2 linked regions of the Homo sapiens genome follow. The protein of the gene in region 1 purifies or fractionates together with the protein of each later gene. This does not show direct contact. Each region holds a gene or a part of one and is shown on either strand. Other genes may lie near its edges.

Region 1 (3,827 bases):
ACCTGTAGTCCCTAGCCACTCGGGAGGCTGAGGTGGGAGGATCGCTTGAGCTCAAAAGGTGGGGCTGCAGTGAGCTATGATGGCACCACTGCACTCCAGCCTGGGCAACAGAGCAAGATCCTGTCTCTGAAAAAAAAAACCAAAAAACCCACTATGTCAGTCAACGAGATGGGTGCTGAAGTAAAGAAGTGAAGAGGAAGTAGGAGAGAAACAATTTTTTCTGCAGACTTTCCAGAACAAGCAAAACCCAACTGTGATGCTCTGCCGGTTTTCCTCTACCTTCATAATGTAATTTGCCACATGCATGACCCAAAGCAATGTTTCTTACACTGCAGACCATGACCCATCAGTGACTCCTGGAACTAATGTAGCGATCACAACCACCATGTTCTTATAAAAAATAAAAAATAGAACAGAACCTATGTTAAGGCATCACACTTACCACTTATGAAGGTGTCATTTCCTAAAACTTTTGTATATTCCAGATATACGATAGTTTGGTCCATGTCAAAACTAAGGAAACTTGGGAAGTCACTGACCTAAATAATTAAACAGGGTATTTGTTTTCTCATCGCTGTCCTTGTAACCAGACTGTTAAGAATACAAACATATTTACTATCATGTGTGTTTCAAATCCAATTTAAGAGTAGAACACCTTTTTGGATAGATTATTAGAATCCTCACTTGTAAAACAAGAGAAACTGAGGCTCAAATAAAGACAGCATGTCCTTCTTGCTCAAGGATTCTTAGCAACAGCAGAATTAATGGTACAAGCCTTTTCTCCATGACACTTGAGACTACGGTGGCAATTCTTACGGTTGGCACAGCCTGGCGAGTGGTCTTTACTTTCCTTACTGGTAGTAAGGAAAGCTGGCTTTAACAAGCCCCATACCTTTCAGCAAACTCCTAGCCTAGAAAGATTCGAAGGGCAATATTTTGAAATGGGAACGTGAACTGAAATAGCCATATTTGACTTAACCCTTTTAAATCAAAGATGATGCTCACAGCGAAAGCAAAACACCTTCCCAATATTTGTTTCTGAGACGGAGAGGCTCTCTGTTTAATTCTTTTCTTGCCTGAATATTTCTTCAGATTAGGGCTTCCTTGACCTCTAAGAATATTTTTTAATCAAAAATAGTGACCTCTAAGGTAATAGTAATAAGCAGAAATTATCCAAAGACGTATAAAGAAAGAGTTGAGAATCTCCCCCCACCTCCTCCTCCTGCCTGAGGTAACCAATGTGAACTGCCCTGGTTTGTATCTTTCCACACTCTTTTTCATATCCAAGCATATTCAAACATATATCCCTACGGTGAAATGAGAATATAGTGTGCCAGTAAATTATTCTGAAACTCGCTTTTCTCAACAAATACTTCATGGACATCCGTCCAAGTCTGCTTCTCAACAGCTACGTAATATTCCAAGTATGAATACTGTAATTTATTAAATCAGTTCTGTATTTTTTCTGTTGTTTCCAAATTTTTGTTAACTTAAAAAACCTACTTTAAGCATCAAAGTACACATATCATACATACTAGTGATTGTATTGCTATAAGATAGATTCCCCAACAGTTACCTAAGTCAAAATATTTGTTTCAGTGTTAACAGACATTGTCAGATTACTTTCTAAATAGATTGTAGTAATTCACACTCCCACCAGAAATGGAGAAGTGCCATTTCTCTGCATCTTTACTAGCACTGAATATTAACCTCTCTTTTTTAGTTTTAATTCCAATTTTAACTAGAAAACACATATTTATTGGCCAGGCACAGTGGCTCATGCCTGTAATCCCAGCACTTTGGGAGGCCAAGGCAAGTGGATCACTTAAGGTCAGGAGTTCGAGACCACCCTGGCCAATATGGCAAAACCCCGTCTCTACTAAAACTATAAAAATTAGCCAGGCGTGGTGGCACATGCCTGTAATCCCAGCTACTCGGGAAGCTGAGGCAGGAGAATCACTGGAATCCCGGAGGCGGAGGCAGAGGTTGCAGTGAGCTGAGATCGCACCACTGCACTCCACCCTGGGTGACAGAGCGAGACTCTGTCTCAAAAAAAAAAGAAAACACATACTTAACAACACTTAGAATCCCCTTACACGAATAAGGGAGAGTTTGACATATAAAAATTTGTCATATGAAAATTCTTGGCACTTTTTTCTATGTTTTCTACATGATGTATAACCTTTTATAATTACGTAACATTAATTAAAATACGCCATGCCAACACTTGTGAAAAGAAGGGAAAAATAAAGTATATCTATATTGTGATTTATGTTAAATATTATATTTAACAAGATACATTTCCCTTTCCATAGTGGATCAGGTTAATTAGCATAAAATGCTGTTACTAAGAGCTATGGGATTTGAGGCTTAGTTGCTGAGATTCAGTATTTCAGTGCTGCAGTGTTTATTTTCTTGCTTTGGTCACACATAAAACTCATATGATTCTGAAATTCAGTAAATAAAGGTCAGAGTCATATTACTTGAGACCTTGGATCAAATTAATACTTCTACCAAAATATTCTTACAACCCATTTTTAAGTAACTATTTCAAAAGCTGTATTAGCATAAACCGTTTCTGCCAGCTACTTGGGAAACTAAGGGAAAAGGTACCTATTGAGTATGTTTGTCTTCACAGCATTTATGAGAAAGACATTAAGTTACGTGGTTTTCTCTCACTAATAGTGGCAATGTGGGAAAATTCCAGAAAAAAAATGCAAAAAGCCAGGCTTTCCAAATCATGCAAGATATTTTTTCTAGAGCAGGAATTGGCCTAGATCACATGTGGTTTGCTGAATCCCAGTCCTGGCATCATAAAGCTGAGAAAATACAGTGTAGGTTTGAAGCCGACACAACAGCAGAGTACCAAAAAACACATGGTAGGAGTGGGATCCACATGGGAAAAGCAACACTGAGATGGAAGTTAATAAAGTGTATATATTTATTTATATATTTATTATATTTATACATACGGTGTCTATATATACACACTATTATCTGGTCTTTATTAAGATTTGCTTTATTATAGAAGAAAATGAAAAGGAAACTAGCTATTTGAGGTTGTAAATCCTTTCTAATTACAAAGGTAATATCAATAAATGTCAGGTTGGCTCTTAAAGGAGATCTGGGATGGAATGAACAAACAATTCGTATATCCTTTTTTTTTTAAAACTCACCATTATCACAAGGCTTAAAATATTTGTACTCTGTAACTCAGCTGCTAAATGTATATGTATCGAGGAGCTACAAGTGAATTTCATTCTTTTGTATATTTTCCAGAGTTTATATAATAAAACATTTTGCCTTTTAAAATGAGGGCAAAAAGGATACTATTCAGTATTGGCCTTGCACCAAAGAAACTGAGTTTCTTCTGAATCTTGACATGACATACACAGAAACAGTCAGCAAGTTTTGTCATAAAAGAACAATGACAGCACATGTATTTGACAGCTGTTTTTTTTTTTTTTTTTTTGAGATGGAGTCTCACTCTGTTGCCCAGGCTGCAGTGCAGTGGCGCGATCTCAGCTCACTGCAACCTCCGCCTCCAGGTTCAAGCAATTCTCCCACCTTAGCCTCCAGAGTAGCTGGGACTACGGGTGCTCGCCAACACAATCGGCTAATTTTTGTGTTTTTACTAGAGACAGGGTTTTGTCATGTTGGTCAGTCTGGTCTCGAACTCCTTTGATAGGTGTTTTTTATCTTAGGTGTTCAGTAAATCATTTGATTAATTCTTAGCCCTCAGAATAAAGTAATGGTATTGGCTTTGGTCTCAGCCTATTTTCCATTGATGAAGCTGTTGCAGGAAGAGCCCCAAGGTCCCAAGCATC
Region 2 (3,827 bases), on another chromosome or scaffold:
TTGAGGTCAGGAGTTTGAGACCAGCCTGGCCAACATGGCGAAACCCCGTCTCTACTAAAAATATAAAAATTAGCCAGGCGTGGTGGCGCACGCCTGTAATCCCAGCTACTTGGGAGGCTGAGGCAGGAGAATTGCTTGAACCTAGTGGGCGGAGGTTTCAGTGAGCTGAGATTGCACACTGCACTCCAGCCTGGGTGACAGAGCGAGACTCTGCCTCAAAAAAAAAAAAAAAAAAAAAAAGGATATGAGATTTGAATGGATACCATCCAAAAAAACTTGATTGTCCTGTCCACTTATGGCTTGGTGAGATAAGTTGCTCAGTGTAATTTCTGATCAGGGAATGCAAATGGAAACCAAAGTAAAAAACCATTTATACCCATCAGATTGGCGAAATTAAGAAGCCTGCTGATAACTAGTGTTACCCAGGATGTCGCACAGCAGGTGCTGTCATGCACTTACGATTGGAAAACATTTTGGCATTTCTTAGTAAAATCAAACATTTTCCAGTTTTGTTACCTGGCAGTTTTATTCATTGGTTAAAAAATATCTTAATGAAATAATTTCATGTAGATAGAAATGTACGTGACATTTTGTTCATACCAGCAAAAAAATGGAAAACAACTCAAAAGTCCAGTAGTGCAAAGGATAAGTAATACTATACAGCTATTAAAATCAGTGAACACACCTGCATGTACCACTGAATGAATCATGAAGACAATTTTGAGTTAAAGAAGCAAGTCACAAGGGAATACATGCTGTATGTTTTCATTTATATGATGATTAAAATTTGGCAAAAAAGAAACAATGTTCGGTGGTAAATCTAAGGAAAGGTTGGGGTGATGAATAATTATGAGAGTCCTTCTCACTGGGCTGAAGGGGTGGGAGGGACAGTAGAAGGGCTTTGGAAGTATTAATCATGTTTCGTCCTCCCAATCCGATGTACCTTGCTACATCAGCATTAACCACCTGCCACCTGGATTGCTGCAGCAGCAGCCTCTTAAGGCTTCCACAAACCCATCTTCCAGCCACCCACTCGTGGTCTGCTGAAGTGCCAGTCTGATAGTATTGCCTGAACAAAACTCCTCAGTGGCTCCTCTGCATTGGAGGATGAAGTCTAGATTTATGAGCTTATTTCCTCATGCCCTCTCCCTGCCTTCACCTCTAGCTTGTACCCTGCACGACCTGTTTGCTACACACAGTCCCTCCACAGAGCCATGCTTCTTGCCTCTGCACTGCTTCTCATGTGCTTTCCTCTTCTCTGAAAAGCTCCCCCTTTCCCCTATTCCTTTCTCCTGATGAACTCTTAGCCATCTCGAAAAACCCAGGCCACTTGTCATCCCTAGAGGCCTTTTCTACCATTATTCCTCTTCTCCACAACCTTGGTGCTTTGTGCTGTGTGGGAACGTTTCTTAATGCATGTATTTGCTCTTGTTCTGTCATCCCTCTAGATGAAAAGCTTGTTGAGATCAGGAACTGTATCTTACTCTCCTTTGTGTTTCTAGGGCTCATAGATGTTGAATGAATGCCTAATTATTTAAATGATAGAATATTGGATTGGAAGTTAGGAAATCAGGTTCCATGTTGGTTCTGCTTTTGACTATGCCATACCAGGCTCATTTGAAAATTTTCTCCCACCTCCAAAATAGGAACACTTGAGATGCTTTATTATTTGCATATTTTCTTTCCACTCTTGATACTTCTGTCTAAATCAGTGAGGCAGGGCATGATTCCTAGTTTTCAGGAAACTGCACTGGTCTTTTAGTAATGCAGTTTACTAAAGAAGAGTAAATCTCACTCGTTACTGAATGTCAGTGACTTCAAAAAGTTTGTGGGAAAAATGGAATTAAAATATAAAAATAAAAACTGTAAACTTTATTTCTCAAAATAAGCTCTATCAAGTTTAAGACACTTTTGCCCATGATGATACCAACCTTTTAGTTCATCCCTAAAGAACTGAGGGTCCTGTGAATTGAACCACGTCAAATGCGGTCTTTTACATTATTAACAGAAATGAGTGCCCTTTAAAGATTTTTTTAAGATTAGGAAACAAGAATAAGTCAGAAGGAGCCAAATCAGGACCATAAGGTCCTAATGGCTTCCCATCAAAATGCTCACTAAATAGCCCTCGGATGAAAGGAATGAGGAGGAACATTGTCATGCTGGAGAAGGACTCTGGTGAAGCTTTCTTGGGCGATTTTCTGCTAAAGCTTTGGCTGACTTTCTGAAAACACATAAAAAGCAAACGTTACTGTTCTTTGGTTCTCCAGAAAATCAACAAGCAAAATGCCTTGGAGCATCCAAAAAAACATTATGACCTGTGCCCTTGACCAGTTCACTTTGGCTTTGACTGGACCACTTCCATCTCTTGGTAGCCATTGCTTTGATTGTGTTTTCAGGTTCATACTGGTAAAACCGTGTTTTATCTGCAGTGGCAGTTCTTCAAAGTAATGCTCTAGGATCTTGATCCCACCTGTTAAAAATGTCCATTGAAAGCTCTTCTCTTGTCTGCAGCTGATCTGTGTGCAATGGTTTTGTCACCGATCGAATGGAAAGTTTGCTCAACTTTAATTTTTCAGTCAGGATTGTGTAAGCTGACCCAACTGAGATGTCTGTGGTATTGGCTGTTGGTTCTGCTGTTTATTTGCGATCTTCTTCAGTTAAGACACGAACAAGATACATATTTTCCTGGCAAATTGATGTGAATAGTCTGCCCTGAGGGCTTCAACATTGTTTCATTCCTTCTTGAAACAAGTTATCCATTTGTAAACTGCTGATTTCTTTGGGACATTATCCCCATAAATTTTTTGTAAAGCATCAGCGGTTTTACCATTCTTCCATCCAAGCTTCACCGTAAATTTGCTATTTTTTCTGCCTTCAATTTTAGCAAAATTCATATTGCTGTTACAGGGGTTCTTTTAAAACTGATGTCTTGTCCTTCTTAGTGCCTCATACTGGATCCTGTTCATACAAGTTACTACAAGTTTATTTTGGTGCAAAAAAATGGTGAAATCCTTGCATAATTTTTTTCATAATACACGTTTTCCATGAGCTTTTTGAAGATTTCTTATATATATGTATCTTTTCCAACGCATGAAGCATTATTGAGGACAAAAATAGTCTTAAATCATAAAAAAGATTTATATCCAATATACTAGAAGGTCTGCCTTTCAATTAACTCTATGTAACAATTTCCTAGTCCCCCAGCCTGTGGGTCTCTTGCTGGTAGCTTCACAGGTAGTCCCAGAATAGAGGGGAAAAACGGCAGTGTCACACGGAAGTGGGGGAGGCAGGGAGCTGAGTGCCTGGAGCTGCATGAGGCAGGTGTTTCCTCTCGTGAATACCCACAAAACTGGGATAAAATGTTTCCCTTCTGTGGCCTGCTCTCTAGTCAGAAAGCTTACTGGGATGAGAACAGACAGTGCTCTTACCCCTAGATATCTCTTCTTTCATTAATTCACTTCATTTCTCCAAGTACTTTCTGATGGTGGTCATGGTTACAATTCCAAAGCAGAAAATAATAGAGGGGAGATTTGTTTTTTTTAAATCAAAATGAGGAAAGGCACATCTGAAGAAGAGACAAATATGTACATTTTTCTGAAGGTAACTATTACACATATTCACTTTTTTTTTGAATTGTGGAATTGTTCATGAGTATGTAAACATAGAGAGAGTAATATGAACCCTGGGTGTCTATCTATCAGCTTTGACAATTGTCAACAGCTCTGTTTCCCTTCTTGTTTTATGTCTGCTTTTAAACTTCTAAAAAATATTTTAAAAATTTATACCACAAAGTCATCAGTCATTCCATAGACTGAGAGAGAGACACA

Evidence for each region.
Region 2: the proteins of IGFBP7 (region 1) and GGH purify together in Homo sapiens (co-immunoprecipitation; one large-scale study listed by IntAct). This does not show direct contact.

The regions. Positions count from the first base shown.
Region 1 is NC_000004.12:57,033,695-57,037,521, reverse strand, and holds part of IGFBP7 (insulin-like growth factor-binding protein 7 isoform 1 precursor), read left to right. Parts: intron 1-3,827. UniProt on the Homo sapiens protein: Binds IGF1 and IGF2 with a relatively low affinity. Stimulates prostacyclin (PGI2) production. Stimulates cell adhesion. Acts as a ligand for CD93 to play a role in angiogenesis.
Region 2 is NC_000008.11:63,018,083-63,021,909, reverse strand, and holds part of GGH (gamma-glutamyl hydrolase isoform 1 precursor), read left to right. Parts: intron 1-3,827. UniProt on the Homo sapiens protein: Hydrolyzes the polyglutamate sidechains of pteroylpolyglutamates. Progressively removes gamma-glutamyl residues from pteroylpoly-gamma-glutamate to yield pteroyl-alpha-glutamate (folic acid) and free glutamate.